2 separate regions of the Homo sapiens genome follow, and region 1 is linked to region 2. Evidence: fine-mapped expression QTL. Tissue or cell type: left ventricle. Region 2 holds a variant in brackets; the other region holds the start of a gene. All regions are shown on one strand. Distances are from middle to middle.

Evidence for each region. PIP is the estimated chance that this variant, and not a neighbour inherited with it, causes the effect.
Region 1: it holds the start of METTL24, and the variant in region 2 is the best candidate, but not a certain one, in a credible set for the expression of METTL24 in left ventricle (GTEx, PIP 0.81).

What each region holds. Positions count from the first base shown.
Region 1 is chr6:110,353,633-110,361,739 of GRCh38, forward strand. It overlaps METTL24 (methyltransferase like 24), which reads right to left and starts at 4,717. Exons shown (of 5, transcript NM_001123364.3): 1 at 4,323-4,717. The coding sequence starts at 4,640. RefSeq lists an enhancer at 7,054-7,348.
Region 2 is chr6:110,227,464-110,235,570 of GRCh38, forward strand. CDC40 (cell division cycle 40) reads left to right here. Exons shown (of 15, transcript NM_015891.3): 14 at 1,369-1,513; 15 at 2,491-4,769. The coding sequence ends at 2,668. Among named protein-coding and RNA genes, the nearest start is that of CDC40, 51 kb to the left of the region's middle. The variant G/A (reference allele first, on the strand shown) is at 3,910.

The DNA of each region.
Region 1 (8,107 bases), 130 kb after region 2:
TGGAGCTCTGTGACTCAGAAGTCACTTTTCTATCCAACATATTAAATGTCAAGTAAAATATATCCGATAAGAGAGATGAAACTTTTTCGGGAAGCTTGGCCACTGAGTGAGTGTCTCTCTTTTGCAAATGGGCCCTGTATGTTGCATCTGTCTTTTAGGTGGATTGCCAACCTATAAGAGATAAAACATCCACCCAAGAGCTGCATTAAAAAGCATAAATCATGAAGACCATATCTAGTCCTCTATAAATCCCTTCAAAAAGAACTTTATCTGTAATCATAGTAAAGGTCTGTTTCATTTAAGAAAGAAAAAAAACCCAAACAGAAACACATGCAGATAGAAAACAGAGAGAAAATAAAAGAATCACAGTGGTATTTTTATGCATGCATAGTATGCGAAATTTGGAGATGAAGAGTCCCGACAGAATGCTTAAAGAATCTGTAATACACAAGAATATATAGGTTCCAGGGTGGGCATAATCAAAAAGGGCAGTATTTATCCATCATCTATCATTGGCTCTCATTTTGCAAAGCTTGAAGATTAGAACCCCTGATGTCGAAAGATCTGAAAATATTTAGAGCTAGTTCTTGCATGGCTCCATGAAGAAGGGGACGAGGAAAGAAAGAATTATATGAGGACTACACTTCACTACTCTTTTTTATAGCAGATTGTTTTCTTTAAGAGGAGCATAAGCTGTGATTAAAGTGGCAGAATTTTGGTGCCTCTAACACCTGGAATGGAAGCAGAGTAACAAGAAATACTTGGCAACCCAATTATTTCATGCAGGTTTTCATCTACCCAGAAAGCTGTCCTCAAAATAGAATGGAACTTTTTCTCCTTTATCAATCTGGGAGGTGCCTGGGGCAAAGTAACCAAGAACCTAAGAATATTGTTGATCAGTATTCTCAACAAACAAAATCTAAATACACTGTGATCCAAGGAGTTTAACAAATAGCTTCCTAATTTTATTTCAATTACTTAATGGTACATTCAGCTTACATTACAGTGCTGTCTTGATGTGAGGCAGAAAAGAAACAAGACTTGTCCCTAGAGAGATATGGGGTTATTGAGCTTTGTTCCCAGAAGTGGGAGGATGGATTAGATAACTGATCTTTCTATAGTTTTAAGGAATATTTTAATTCAACTGTGAAATAATGGGAGAATAAAACAAATTCAAGATCAACACTATCTAGGGATTTGGGAAGGTTAGATGTATATCCCGAAAATAATAGCTAGCGAGAAGGAAATCTAAGAAAATGTTTACCTTAGGAGACTAAAAACTTAATATTTTAGAAATAGCAAAAGGCCCATTTATTTCTTATAAATTTTTAACCAAAGACATTTACAGTTACTGAATAGGCTGAAATAGTAAGATTCTTATACTTTCACATACTGGGGTCTCAGGAGTAAACATTTACTAGGGGTCACTATGGGAAATACAATCCTTCCCATCAAGAACAACTGTGGAGACAAAACATTCCATCCGAAATGGATTATCAGGCCTCAACTTGTACAAAGCAATGCACAAATCAGACTCTTTCTGTTGTCATTCCAAGTGGGGGAGGGGTCAGCATGAAGCAGGGTTGCTATGGGAAGGTTTCTGGGCTATGAACCTTGACCTGAGGAATGTCCAAGGGTGAAAAGGGCAGGAGTCATAAGAAAGGGGGATGGGGCCTTGCAGGTAGAGGAGTGAGCATAAGCCACCTTTGTAGGTTACAGTGAATGACGTTTGGAGACTGGCTGAGGCTAAAAACCTGGGGCCTACTGTAGAAAGTAAAGCTACCATTATTGAGAGCTAAACATGCCAGGCACAAAGCTAAACATTTCCTTTACTTTTTTCCCTAATTTAATTGTAATAAAACTGAGCCCCAGGCCACAGGCTCGGATTGCTTCTCTTTGTTAGCCACACTCACTTCCTAGATGACCACATACGATCTCTCAGTTTTACTGCCATTTGTACTTGGATGATTCTCAAATCACCACCTTCAGCCTGGACATCTCCTCCAAGCTCTGGACTCACACGTCCGGTTGCCTATTTGACATTTTCACATGCATGCCTGAAGGATATCTTAAACTGAATTCCTGCTTTCCATCTATCCCCCAAACAAAACAAACAAGAGAGAAATAACTGCTCCTCCTCATCCACCTTCCAAACACATCCAGAAACCAACCACTTCTCACCACCTCCACACCTACCACAGCAAGCCACCCCCATCTCCAGCCTGAATCACTGTGGCAGCCTCCTAGCTCCTAGCAGGGATGAGTGTGAACCTCCCCTCCAGCGCCCCACTGAGTCTATGCATTCCAAACCTGTCCTTTGTAGGACAGGCTCCAGCCATCAGTACTGTCGTTTGAGGTACAGACAAAGAGTTAAGAGTAATTACTTGACAGATGACAGCAGAAACAACAGATGCTGAGTGAATCTAAAAGGAAAACTGCAGGGAGGGGTTGAGGGTGTCAAGGATGGAACATTGAGGACATCCAGAGGGGAATAAAAGAAGCCCCACTCTTAAGAAACATCACAGTGTTGGCCAGGCGCAGTGGCTCACGCCTGTAATTCCAGCACTTTGGGGGATTGAGGCGGGTGGGTCACTTGAGGTCAGGAGTTCGATACCAGCCTGGCCAACATGGTGAAACCCATCTCTATTAAAAATACAAAAATTAGCCCAGCGTGGTGGTGCACGCCTGTAATCCCAGCTACTCGGTAGGCTGAGCCAGAAGAATCGCTTGAACCCGGGAGACGGAAGTGGCAGTGAGCCAAGATCAAGCCACTGTACTCCAGCCTGGGCGACACAGCAAGACTCCGGCTCAAATAAAAAAAAGAAAAAGAAAAGAAAAGAAAAGAAAAAGAAAAGAAAGAAACATCACATTGTAACTCAAATATGTCCCCCGCCTTGAGCAGCCTTTCTTGACTCCCCAGGCAGAGCTGAAGGCCTCAATTACAGGATTGGAAATCACCGGATGCCTGTGCTAAGAGCCTCCCCCACGAGAATCTGAACTCGTTTTGTGCCTCCAGCACCAGATGCCTACCTGGTAAGCCCTTGGCAAAACTGTGCTGAATGTTTAACATGGTATCACGGACAGTGAATTAGGAACTTGGAGAGGAAGTGGCTGCTTTCTTCTGGAAGATCTAATCAAGACTTTACACAGGAGGTGAGGTTTGCGAGATAGAAAAAGGTATTTCAGTTTATCCAGGAAGTTAGCACGATGGCCCAGCAAGGAACAGCAGTGGTGTGGAAAAACGGAGGGCGAGGCCCGAAGGAAGCGAGGAAGTGAAGCCCGGCAGGAGTGCTGGGTTGTGGTGCTGAAAAGTAGGCTAGCACTGGGCAGCCGAAGACAGCAGCGAGGCAAAGGAAGAGTTGTTCCCTCCCCTCCAGGACCGGTGATGGGAAGCGGGGTGGAGGTTGGGGTGGATGTCTAAAAGAAACGAGGAACAGCCGGGCAACGGAAAGTAGTTGCTTTGGAGAACGTGGTTGAGGCTGGAAGCAGGAGTTGATGGGTAAAAGGATGAGGAGAGCTCATACCTGTAGTTCTTTTCATTTCCATGTACGACGCAAATTACCGAGCTCCAAAAAGGAGATGAGCCCAAAACCTTAACAATCAGAGGCTAAAAATGGACTAATCAGTGAGGTGTAAGCCAAGAAGTTAATGAGGTAGGAGGCACAACACGGTCGAGAGTTATAAGACAAACCCAGGTTATTACTTGGGTCCTCGAGGATCCAATTAACTTCTCATTAAGTGGGGCTGGGTGCTCGGCTTCTCAACTGGCGCCAGCCTCCCAGCCCCCAGCCAACGCCTGGAATGAGACTCCAGGGAAATTCGGCCAGCTGGTGGATCTTCAGCGAGATGAAGGCAGTGGCGTGGACAGGCCATTCACGGCGATACCCACCCAACTCTGTCCAGGCCTTAAGCAGAAGGCTGGGAGCAGCACAGCACATCAATGGCAGCCACAACGCCTTCCTTTCCCTTTCCCTTTCCCTGCCTATCACGCAAACACTCCCCTACTAAAGTGTATCCTCCGTGAGAACAGGGCTCCGTCCTTCTTCACGGGATGCGCGGAGCCTAGAAGGGCGCCCGGCCACGGCGACCCCCAAGTACTGGCTGAATAGTGAATGAACTCCGCTTGGCCGCACTTCAGTCTATCTGGGCACTGAAAGATGCGACCCGTGGAGCCGCCTAAGAGAGCACAGGGGGAAGAGAAGAAGCGGAAGCCTCCGGAGGTCCCATCGAGGCGGCCTGCGGGACCTGAGCGCCGGGCTCCGTAGCGCGGTCGGGAGGGGGCTTCTGGTCCCAGGCCCAAGACCGACCGCTTTGCAACTGACCTTCCGGCGGGGGCGCCCGCGCGGGGCACAGCAGCCAGGCTCCGGCGTCCCGCTCCCGCCGCCCCCCGGCGGCGCCCGGCGACCGCTGCGCACGTAGGTCACCTGCCTCCTGCTGGCGCCGCGCGGCTGGCCCGGCGCGGGCGGCAGGTGCGGCCCAGGTGGCCGCCAGGCCGGGCCCGGCGGGGCGCTGCGGGTGGGGGACCCGGGCCCGGCGCGCCGCAGCTCTGCGCAGAGCCGCAGGCCGAACAACAGCACAGCCCCGAGTAGACACCGGCGCAGGACGCCGCAGCCCCTCCCGGGCGGCCTCTCCCGGGCCATGGCGCTACACTCGGGGTCCCGCGGGCCGCGCCTGGCCGGCAGCAGGGATGTAGCCCCACAGGCCGGAGCGGCCAACTGTGGGAACTCCCCCGCGGGCCGGGGTGCGGGCTCGGACCCGCCTCCCTCCCTCCCGACCGAGGAAGCCCCGGCGTAACCTTATCCTGCCCTGCCGAGCGCGCCCCGCCGCTGGAACGGTGGTGGGCCGAACGCGGTCACAGGGGGCCCTCTCCGCCCCTCCGGAGGTGCCAGGGCCCGGCTGTACAGGGTCCCTCAAGAGGTGCCCTCCGCCCCGGCCTCCAAAGCCTGACGGAGCTGAAAGACATAGGGCCAGAAAAAGCGCATTCCTAACGGGATCCCGGGCCATAACTTCATTTTCTGGTATTAGTGTTGTTGGAGAAACACAGGAGGAGGGTAGGTGAGCATACAAGGAACAGTCAAGCAGTTTGCACCATTAAGCACAATATAAAAATAAATAGCACTTATGCCCGGGCTTACAACTTCTCTCTCTCTCTCAAGAAAGAAAGGGATTGGGGGGCGAAGAGAATAGCACTCAATGCAGAATAATCAAATTAGAGTTATTCTATGTCTAAATTCTGCCTGAAGCCAATTCGTGCTTTCTTTCCGTGTTATGAAATGTGTGGGGGTGAAGAAGAAGAGGGAAAAAGCCAGCTAAGACATCTGACAGCGGGTTGGTGAGGAGGGGGGAGAGAGAACAGAAGTTACCATGGCATGATGTAAATCAAATTAATTTAGCTCCAAACACACACCTCCCTGCTGTCTCGCAGAAATACAGAGGGACAAATTTATCTTTCGGCAAAATGCTCCCCAGCTGGTATTTCCATCACCACCTTGACCTTAATTAATCAGACTGAACTCTCACAGCCTGAAGTCCAGTGGTGGATGTTCCATTTTCAATTGTTAGTAGAATCCTTTCCCACAACCCATTTGGGGTGGGTTTGGGTTTTAGGTTTGAGTTTGGGTTTAGATTTTTTTAAGCTGTAGTCACTTTTCTTTTTTTCCTTGCTTTACTCTTGCATTTTCCATGCTTCCATGGGAGACTGCGCCTGTAGACCTATCCTCTTCCCCCGTAACAGCCTACAGCATGGACAAGAGAGAACAAATATGGGGCCCTACCCCCCTGCCCTTTTGAATGTTGGGTATTTTCCGTAGGAAGCCCTCGTCTCTAAAATCCTCTTCTCTTCCTGGCTTAAGAAAGACCCAATTTATTCCCTGCTAGTGAACAAAGCACTTGGGCTGTTTCTCTACATGTAACAAAATATCTCCACCCAGTCTAGTCCACCCCCTGGCCACACCAGATCCTCAGGCTCCTGAACGTTCCATTAGGATTGACTTTTGCTTTTTTCTTAGATGAGTCCAGGGGATATTGCAGATGGGTTCTATTTTAACAAATTTAAACAAGTACGAGTTTTTCCTTACACAAACTGAGAGCCAGCCTCACATCCTGTGACTATTTACTTGAACTGTGTTTGAACCAGGACCCTGCCGTTCAAGCACTATGAGACTTTCAACGAAGTACTGGACCTCTCTGAGTTTCCGTTTTCCCATGAATAAACAGATCTATATATATGGCAGGATTATAAATGTTGCATAAAATATTATATGTTTCATGCCCAAATAATACTGGCTCACAGAAGGGTCTCAATAGTAATTATTTTGTTATTTACCATGGAAGAAAATCCTGGATGTTGTCATGAAAAACAAAAGGTAAGCATTGATTCCAAAGTGGGCAAAGATAAAGTATAAGGAAATTTACAAATAATTTATACAGCATTCTCTGGAATTCAGAGTACCCAATAATTTCAAGAAAATAACAATTAATCATCAAGAAACGAACTCTGTTAAGTTGTATAAGGCTCTTTAAGACAGAGTTTGTAGGGTGCTTGATAAACCTGGATTGGTAATGTCTGATGTAGACTTTGCTGGAAGTTTTATTTTCTATGCAGTCAACACAGTGCCGCTAACTAGAGAAGTCATATTTTGAAGATCATGGTGCCACTAGTGCGTACCCTCTGCTCCTCTGTTGAGTTTCTCTCTGGGGGTGGGTGGGGAAGCATAAGCACTCTCCTATATTATTAAAATGGGGATATTTAATAAGACTCTGGGCTGGGGGTGGAGGATGGAGTGGGGGTGCATACAAAACAGTGTAGCTCTTGAAGAGAATGGGCAGGATGACCTCATATTTTCCTTTATCTCATTTCTACAGTTCTCTAATAAAATGTTTTCATTATGGAAAAAAATTCAAATTACATGGAATATTTAAATAGCCTTTTATCTTTTGCAGTTGTGTTTATGTCTATGTGTTTATTACTAATAAAAAAGAACCGTTTATATGTATGTAGCATCAATTTTCTGGAAGAAACCTATTTTTAACTTCCACACAGTGTTTTCCTGTGTGGTGGATGATAATGAATAGTAAAATGGGTCAGTCTGTGGGCTGAAGAGGCAAATCTAATGGATCACTGTTGTAGCTGACAAGCAATCTTTCATTCACGACCTTTGCTTTTCTTATAGAGTTGAACTTGTCTCAGTCCTTTCTGGATGTGTCTCAAAAATGCAGATAATCATTAACCGCTGTGTCATAGGCTGGTTAATTAAACAAGCAGGTCAGTAAACCACAATAGCGGCTTTCATCAGATCACAGATTACATCCTCCTAGAGGTTTTAGCCAGAAAAATGTGTGAAACAGAACATTTCTAATCTCCTAAACAACATGCATTTCAACTTGGACACCTGCTGTAGTGCTGTGATTCTCAACCAGGGTTGGTTTTGCCTCCCAGGGGACATTTGGCAATGTCTGAAGATGTTTTTGGTTGTTACCACTGGAGGATGCTACTGGCGTCTAATGGCTACCTATTAGACTAGGGATGCAGCTAAGCCTCCTCCAGTGCAAAAGATAGCCTTCCACAACAAAGACTTGTCCAGCCCAGAATGTCAGGAGAGCCTAAGTTGAGAAAACCTGCTGTAACTATAGATGCCAATGTGGTCATTTTAAATTATAGACTGTCCAAAGAGAAAACAGAGCCGATAGTATCCTCACCTTCATCAAGTGGTTATTTATATCTCACAATGTGACATACCCAGTGTGTTAGTCCTTTTTTGTGTCACTATAAAGAAATACCTGAGGCTAAGTAATGTATAACAAAAAGAGGTTTAATTGGCTCTTGGTTCTGCATGCTGTACATGAAGCATAGTGCCAGCATCTGCTTTTGGTGAGGCCTCAGGAAGTTTACAGTCATGGCAGAAGGCAAAGGGTGAGCCAGTGCATCACATGGTGAGAATGGGAGCAAGAGAGAAAGGAAGGAGCTGCCAGCCTCTTTTAAACAATCAGATCGCCCATGAACTAATAGAGCAAGAACTCGCTTATCACAAAGGGGGGATAGTGCTAAGCCATTCGTGAGGGATCCACCCCCATGATCCAATATCTCCCGCTAGGCCCCACCTCCAAC
Region 2 (8,107 bases):
TCACTGTGCATCTATATTTCATGTAGCGTATTTTTAAACCACCTATTACAGATTTTGTGCCCATCTTGAACAAGGCCATTTACCCACTCAGGCATTATTTAAGTCTGTTTCCTTAGTAAGTAATGTTTACATGTACAGTTGGCCCTTTGTATCCATGAGCACCATATCCTGGGATTCAACCAGCACGAATCCAGAATATTCAACAAAATAAACAATAAAAAATAACAATACAACAATTAAAAACAACACAGCATAACAACTAGGTACAAAGCATTTACGTTGCATTAGGCATTATAAGTAATCGAGAGGTGATTTAATGTATACAGGAGATATGTAGGTTATATGCAAATACTATGCCATTTTATATAAGGGACTTGAGCATCTGTGAATTTTGGTATTGGGTAGGGGTGCAGATCCTGGAACCAATTCCCAACAGATACCAAGGGATGACTATATATAGGATGCAAGTATAGTCATGCATTCCTAACAACAAGGGTACTTCTGAGAAATGCAGTGTTAGGTGATTTTGTCATTTTGTGAACATCACACAGAGTACTTACACAAACCTAGATGGTATAGTCTACTTACCCTAGGCTGTATGGTATAGCCTGTTGCTCCTAGGCTTTACCCCTGTATGGCATGTTGCTGTTCTGAATAATGTAGTCAGTGGTAAGCATTTGTGTATCTAAACATAGAAAAGGTACAGTAAAATCTCAGCATAGAAAAGGTACAGTTAAAATTTAGCACTATAATCTTATGGGACCACTGTCATACGTGCGGTCCATCATTGACCAAAACATTGTTAAGTGGTGCATGACTATAGACGCTGCAGTTTAGGCTCTAGGGGCTTTGATGAATCCTAAGTAGAGAAAAGCATTGTAGCCTTTTAAAAAGTTACTATAATTTTTAATATATCTTTTTTTGTATAGTTTTATTTAATAACCCTAGGCTTTCTCACCCCTTAATCTTTCTTTATTCTGTAATTACCACAGATAAGTCTCTTTCTCCTATTTCCCATAGTTCTGTTGTCTATACTTACTATAAATTAATTTCATTTCACAACTTTTAGCTTATTTCTTTAACATTAAGCTTGGAATTTCTATATTTCCTTATTTTTTTAAAAACTTTTATATGAGAGTGCTCAATGATATAGGATCGTATATGCAAAAGCCATTAGTTTATATATTAATACCTCTTGCCAGTGACATATTTATAACATTTTACAGGTGGTATAGTAAATTTATTTTTTAGTATTATAAAGTATTTGGGAGCAAAACTTATATTAATCACAGTGAACATATTTAAAATAAAAAGTTTTAAAAATTGTTTTAGTCTTCCTCTAAAATACCTCATTTATTGAATTTACAGGAAAATGGCTAGCATGCCAATCAATGGACAACCAAATCTTAATTTTTGGAGCACAGAACAGATTTAGATTAAATAAGAAAAAAATTTTTAAGGGCCATATGGTAGCAGGCTATGCTTGTCAGGTGGACTTTTCACCAGACATGAGGTAAGTTTAAATCTTCTAATCCATTCTCGTATTCAAATATGATTATATAAACTGTTGTTGTACAAATAACACTTGACACATCACTCTCACATAATATGTTTTTATGAGAACTCGATGATCTGTCAAAATTGTCAAAATGCTGGATATAAAGGCAAGAACAAATTAGGAAAATTACATTTTGCTTTTTTTAGGTTCTTGCTTCAGTATATTCCCTTCTATTACTTAGGCTTATGCCCTTTAGCCACCTAATAAATCCCTGTCTATATAACCAATGCCTTATTTTCTCTGCTTTTCTAAGCAAGACTAGAAGTGCTATAATCACTGTATTGCTATGATTGAATGAACACCAGAAGAATTAATTGTGTATTACAGTGTTGCAGTTACAGCTTCACTACAGCTTGTCTGTGCTGAAACCTCAAATCCAGCTTTTGAATATTTCTAGGTCACACTGGATTTGTGAAGCCTACAGCATGGTTCTTAGTTAAAATGTATAGGCAGAAGTAATTTAGAAATCCCAGTAACTTTGTTTGTTTAGCCTAGTAATTGGGCCTACCTCTGATTCAGTCTTAGATGTATTCAAAAGATATTAAAGCCAAAAAGTAATTATGAAAGTGTTAGAGCCTACTGTGATAGAATAGATCTAAAGGTGTTCCCTAGCTATATGTGGAATTGGTTCTCCAGTCTCTGTTTCTGACTATCTAGAGACTGATTGTGTAACCTCATTCACTGTGGCTCCTGGGACTCCCAGTCTTCCCAGTTAAAAATAATTTTCTACTCTTAGATTGGTTGGGAGGTTTTTTTAATAGAATTTCAAATTATAGACTGCTTCATGTTCTACCATCTTATTCTGAGTATTGTATATTTGCATTGGATTTTTTTTTTAATGTTAACGTGAAAAGATAACGTCCCTATTCCTCATTCGCCTTACCAATTTAAGGTATTTTAATAATTTGAATTTATCTTTCTTCCCATTATAGTTATGTGATTTCAGGAGATGGAAATGGAAAATTAAACATTTGGGACTGGAAGACCACAAAACTCTACAGTCGATTTAAAGCTCATGATAAAGTGTGTATAGGTGCAGTGTGGCATCCTCATGAAACTTCTAAGGTCATAACATGTGGTTGGGATGGTCTCATTAAATTGTGGGATTAATGAGATTAATCCTTAAACTAGCTGGGATCATTTTTGATCCATTGTCATATTTATATTTAATTATTAAATGTATCTGATGATAACTTGATTTACAGATAATGTTGATGACATTGACCCTTTGTTTAAAAAAAGAAACTGTAAATTTGACATAATTTCATTTGCAACTTCATTTTGTTTTTTATAAATGTTATTTATACAGAAAGTGGCTATTGACTTTCTATTTGACAAGTAGTTATAATTGGCAAGCAGTTTGAGTTTATACTCATGACATACTGAAAGCATCTCTTTGGGGTCAAGAAAGAATCCCTAGTGGATTTGGGATTCTAGAGGAGGTGTTATAATTAATTATTCAGAAAAATGCATGTATTTACCTCTTCAACCAAAAGGGCAGTAAAGAATAGGGATAATATATTTTAATGTAAATTTGGAAGAAGGATAAAATCACCCACAGTTACTCTCCCTATTATTTTCACTGGGTCAAGTTTTAATCTTTTGGCTTCATGAGTTCCACTCCCTTTGATGATATATGTTGTATATTTTTAGTTGTAAAGCAGTAATCTTTAACTGTAGCATTCCTCTAATTATAAACAGTGAAAAATCAAAATCAGTCCAGAGTTCTTTTGTTGACTTAATTCCTGATCAGTATAGACAGGACTATATATATTTAATCAGAGAATTACATTATATCTGAAGATGGAGCTCAGGAGAATGCACCAAGACTTTGAATTGTATTTACATTCACTGTCAGTAAAGACCTGGCTACGCTTTGAGAAATCAGGATCTCCTAGGTCATTGCTTCGCAGCTGTGATTACTGAAATCCTCCTCATAGGAGATAAAGTACGAGGGGTAGAGTCCAAGATGTCAACTTGTAATTTCTTTGAAGTCATATGTTTTATCTTTAAAATTATTCTTATTTTACCTGTGAATATATACAACAGAACTTTTTAAGATTAAAAAATTTTTAAACCTCTATGTCTGAAAAAAAAAATGACACTCCTGGAAGATGGCTAGGGTTCCCCAGTTTGAGAAGCAGTGGCCATGGTGAAAAATAGTTTTTGAAAACATCAGATTATAAAATCAAGATAGTCCGGACGCGGTGGCACATGCCTGTAATCCCAGCACTTTGGGAGGCTGAGGCAGGTGAATCACCTGAGGTCAGGAGTTCAAGACCAGCCTGGCCAACATAGTGAAACCCCGTCTCTACTAAAAACACAAAAATTAGCCAGGCTTGGTGGCTGGC[G/A]CCTGTAATTCCAGCTACTCAGAAGGCTGAGGCAGGGAGAATTGCTTGAACCCAGGAGTGGAGGTTGCAGTGAGCTGAGATCATGCCACTGCACTCCAGCCTGGGCGACAGAGCGAGACTCCACCTCAAAAAATAAAATCAAGATAACCTCTTGAATGTAATAGCTCATAGCACTTTAATTTGGCAAGCCATTTTTCCTGTTTTATTATAAATCTATATTAGATGTTTGAATATGGTTTGAAATATTTCACTACCGTGCTGAAAAAGGTTGGTTGATAGCAGCTTGGAGTGCTAACTGGAAGATCAAAATCATGTCTCTTGCTGATAACCTAAGAGCATTAAGCTCTGAGTCCAGTGAGGTCATAGCAGTGTATGCTCCTTGCCCTTACGGAGTGTCTGTTTTTAGAAATTTAGATTTTAAAAGGCGTGGGACATACGACCAGGCCCTATAGCCACATAAATATAAATTTCATAGAAAAAGAATAAAAGCGGAGATATATTTTTTGACACAGAGGCACCCAAAGAAATACAAACATTGCCTAGCTGCTGCCATTTCTGTAACTGCCCAGAAGGGTGACAGATTTCTGAAGGGGAAAGGATTCAGATATGACCTTTTCTTTAGTCCCAACCACTAGTTTTAACAAATGTGAATTATTGAAATGTGAAGGGACAAAAAGAATCATACATTTAAACTGTCTTGTTCAGCATACCAATATTGTATGTTACAAATCATCATTTCTAAATCTGGATTGATTCTGTTGTGTTTTTGACTGTTTCTAAAGTAAGTGTGTATAAAAGTCTCCTTTTTAAAAAGATCATATTTTTAAATAAAGCATTTTTTGTAGAAAGTGCTATCAAAATGTTCATCTTGTTCATCTTTAGTCTCCTTTTGAGTCTTAAGTGTATTGAGACACTAGATTAAGCCATTTGCAGTTTTAAATGGGTCATATGGAGAGAAATAATGCTTTAGAGGTGGATGTGGTTTATTCAGGTATATCAGTGGGTTTATAATTATATAATAAAATACATGGCAGTACCCTCAGAGCACATTAACACATTCCATATTCATTTAGTGGTGGCACTAAGTCATGACTACACAACATTTTAGAGTACATAAATGAGTGGGGTTATATTTCAGCATAAAAAGTCTCAAGATCACATTGTTACTGGACTTAGGTGGTTACCATCTGGCTCCTTTTCCTTATTGCAGCCTTTTTGTCATATCCAGGACAGATTTCCTTCCTAAAAGTTACGATAAAAGTGATGCTTTAGTGAAATATTTACTGGAATGAATATTTAAATATTGAGTCACAAGCTGGAAATATTTTGTCCTAAACAAGGAACAAATTTTAAGATTAAAAAACGGGAGTAGTGTTACACAGCCACATTTCTAAGTAGTTCTTGAGGCTACATTGTGGGGCTGCCTGGTATCCTTGGTATATTTATAAAATACCTGTAAGAAAACATTGACTTTGAAATAGCAAACCCTTAGATGGTAACCATAAATATCACAACACTGGGAACAATTATAGAGACTTTTCTTGGAGAACATTGTTTCTCAGGGTATGGACTGAGAACCTCTGCATCTGAATTACCTAGGGGTTGCGTTGCTTACTGAGATGTAGAATTCAGAAAAAAGTAGGAATTATTTGGGGGAGCCATTGTGAATTCAGGTATGGGAAGGGGTATAAAGTGGCATCCAGGCACCCAGTATCCTTCAGCAGTATTAAATGTGGGTCTCAAAGTGAGACCTGGGGAAACTGATTCCATGTATCATCACAGATGCATATTTTTCACATTTTGACATTTTTGAATAGGGCTCTAGTTAAAATAAATGAATGTCCTAGTTTAATGGGCAGCATTTAATTTTTTCTTAGTATATCATAAAATAATTGATGAAATACAGTAAAAACAAGGCAAGTACGAAGGGCCTGAGAAGAAGAGAAGATCCAATGGGAGGAAAGTGTCTGTTGCAGCACTGGGCTCAAAATTCAGGTTATGAAATGTTTCTTTGATCACTGAGTAAAATGAACGAACTAACTGAAGATTCAAATTAAAAATATATATTTATATATATATGTAGACACACAAATAATCACTAGAAAGCTTTTTTTTTTTTTTTTTTTTTGAGACAGTTTCACTCTTGTTGCCCAGGCTGGAGTGCAATGGTGCGATCTCAGATCACCACAACCTCTGCCTCCCGAGTTCAAGCGATTCTCCTGCCTCAGCCTCCCGAGTAGCTGGGATTACAGGCATGCGCCACCACAGCCCAGCTAGTTTTGTATTTTTAGTAGAGATGGGGTTTCTCCATGTTGGTCAGGCTGGTCTCGAACTCCTGACCTCAGGTGATCTGCCCTCCTCAGCCTCCCAAAGTGCTGGGATTACAGGCATGAGCCACCGTACCCGGCCAGCTTTTTTTTAATGTAGAATTTTTGTTCCCAACTCAGATCTTCAAATCAAAGTCAGCACTTTTAGCAAGATCCCCAAATGAGAAGCACTGAGGTAGAGTCCCAAATTTATCTTGGGCATTTGGGAAACTAGACTATGTGGGACATGTAAAGTCAAAGAGAAATTTAGCTGGTCAAAAATATGCACTGTACACATGTGTATGTGCATGTATATGTGTGTATAATGTATGCACATAGTATATGTGTACATGTTCCATATTCATAGTCACTTTAATAATTGTGGAAACAACTTTCTAAACCTAATTGCAATTTTATCTGGAACTTAAAAGAAGTCACAGACTTGCAGCCAGCACCCTTAGAGTGACTATTTTTAGTGACAGTAAGTGAAAGTGAAACTCTTGATTCTACAGCTTCTTACATCTGCAATAGCTGTCATCAAATGAGTTTCTTTCATTCCCCACTCTCCAGCCTCCAGCTTTTTAGGTCTGGGGGAGCAACTCAGATCTCCATGTTTTATTTGTTTTAATATACTTCTGTCCAATAGATATATGTCAGTCATATATGTGATTTTAAATTTTCTAATAGCCAGGTTTAAAAGGGACTTAATAATATATTTTAACATATCCAAAATTTTATCTGAAGATGTACTCAATTATTTTAAAAATTAATATTTTACTTTTTTCATATGGAGTCTGAAATCTGGTATATATTTTACACTTACAGCACATCTCAATTCAGACACTACATTTTCATCAAAGTATTTTATCTTTCATACAAAGTAGATTTACATGCCCAAATTGTTTCAAACATACTTAGAAGTTTTCCAATAACAAAATCAAGTGCAGTCACGTGTTGCTTAACAATGGGGATACGTTCTAAGAAATGTGTCATTAGGTGATGTCATTGTTGTCCGAACATCATAGAGTTAACGTATGTACCAAACCTAGGTGGTATAGCCTACTCCATTGCATAGTTCCATTATAATCTTAGGGGACCACCATCATATGGTGGTCTGTCACTGAGCGAAAGGTTATTATGTGGTATGTGACTGTATATTTTAATTTAAATTAATTAAAAGTAAATGTAATTTAAAATTTAGTTTCTCAGTTAACCACAGTTTTAAGTGCTCAGTAGCAATATGCCTCTAGAGGCTGCCATATTGCACAGTACAGTTATAGTACCACATTTTACATAAGAGTGGCTCAGATATTCAGTATACTGCCTCATCTTCTGAAAAATATTGTAAGGTTCAATCTGATCGTAAAATATCTCATATAAAAAATACAAATGCTCATATTTTTCTTGCTACATTTTGGGTAATTTCCTCAGGCCTGTCTTCCAGGTTTTTTTTTTTTTTTTTTTTTTTTTTTTGAGACAGAGTCTCGCTCTGTCGCCCAGGCTGGAGTGCGGTGGCTGGATCTCGGCTCACTGCAAGCTCCGCCTCCCGGGTTCACGCCATTCTCCTGCCTCAGCCTCCCAAGTAGCTGGGACAACAGGCGCCCGCCACCGCGCCCGGCTAATTTTTTGTATTTTTAGTAGAGATGGGGTTTCACTGTGTTAGCCAGGATGGTCTCGATCTGCTGACCTCATGATCCGCCCGCCTTGGCCTCCCAAAGTGCTGGGATTACAGGCGTGAGCCACTGCGCCCGCCTCCAGTTCATTTTACGTCTCTGTAGTTGTGTCCAGGGTGCCATTGTTCCATTAAACTTCTTATTTCCATGGCTGTTTTTCTTTTCTGGAAGGTGTATTTGTACTTTTTTATATTTACCTGTTCTTTTTCACAGTGTCGT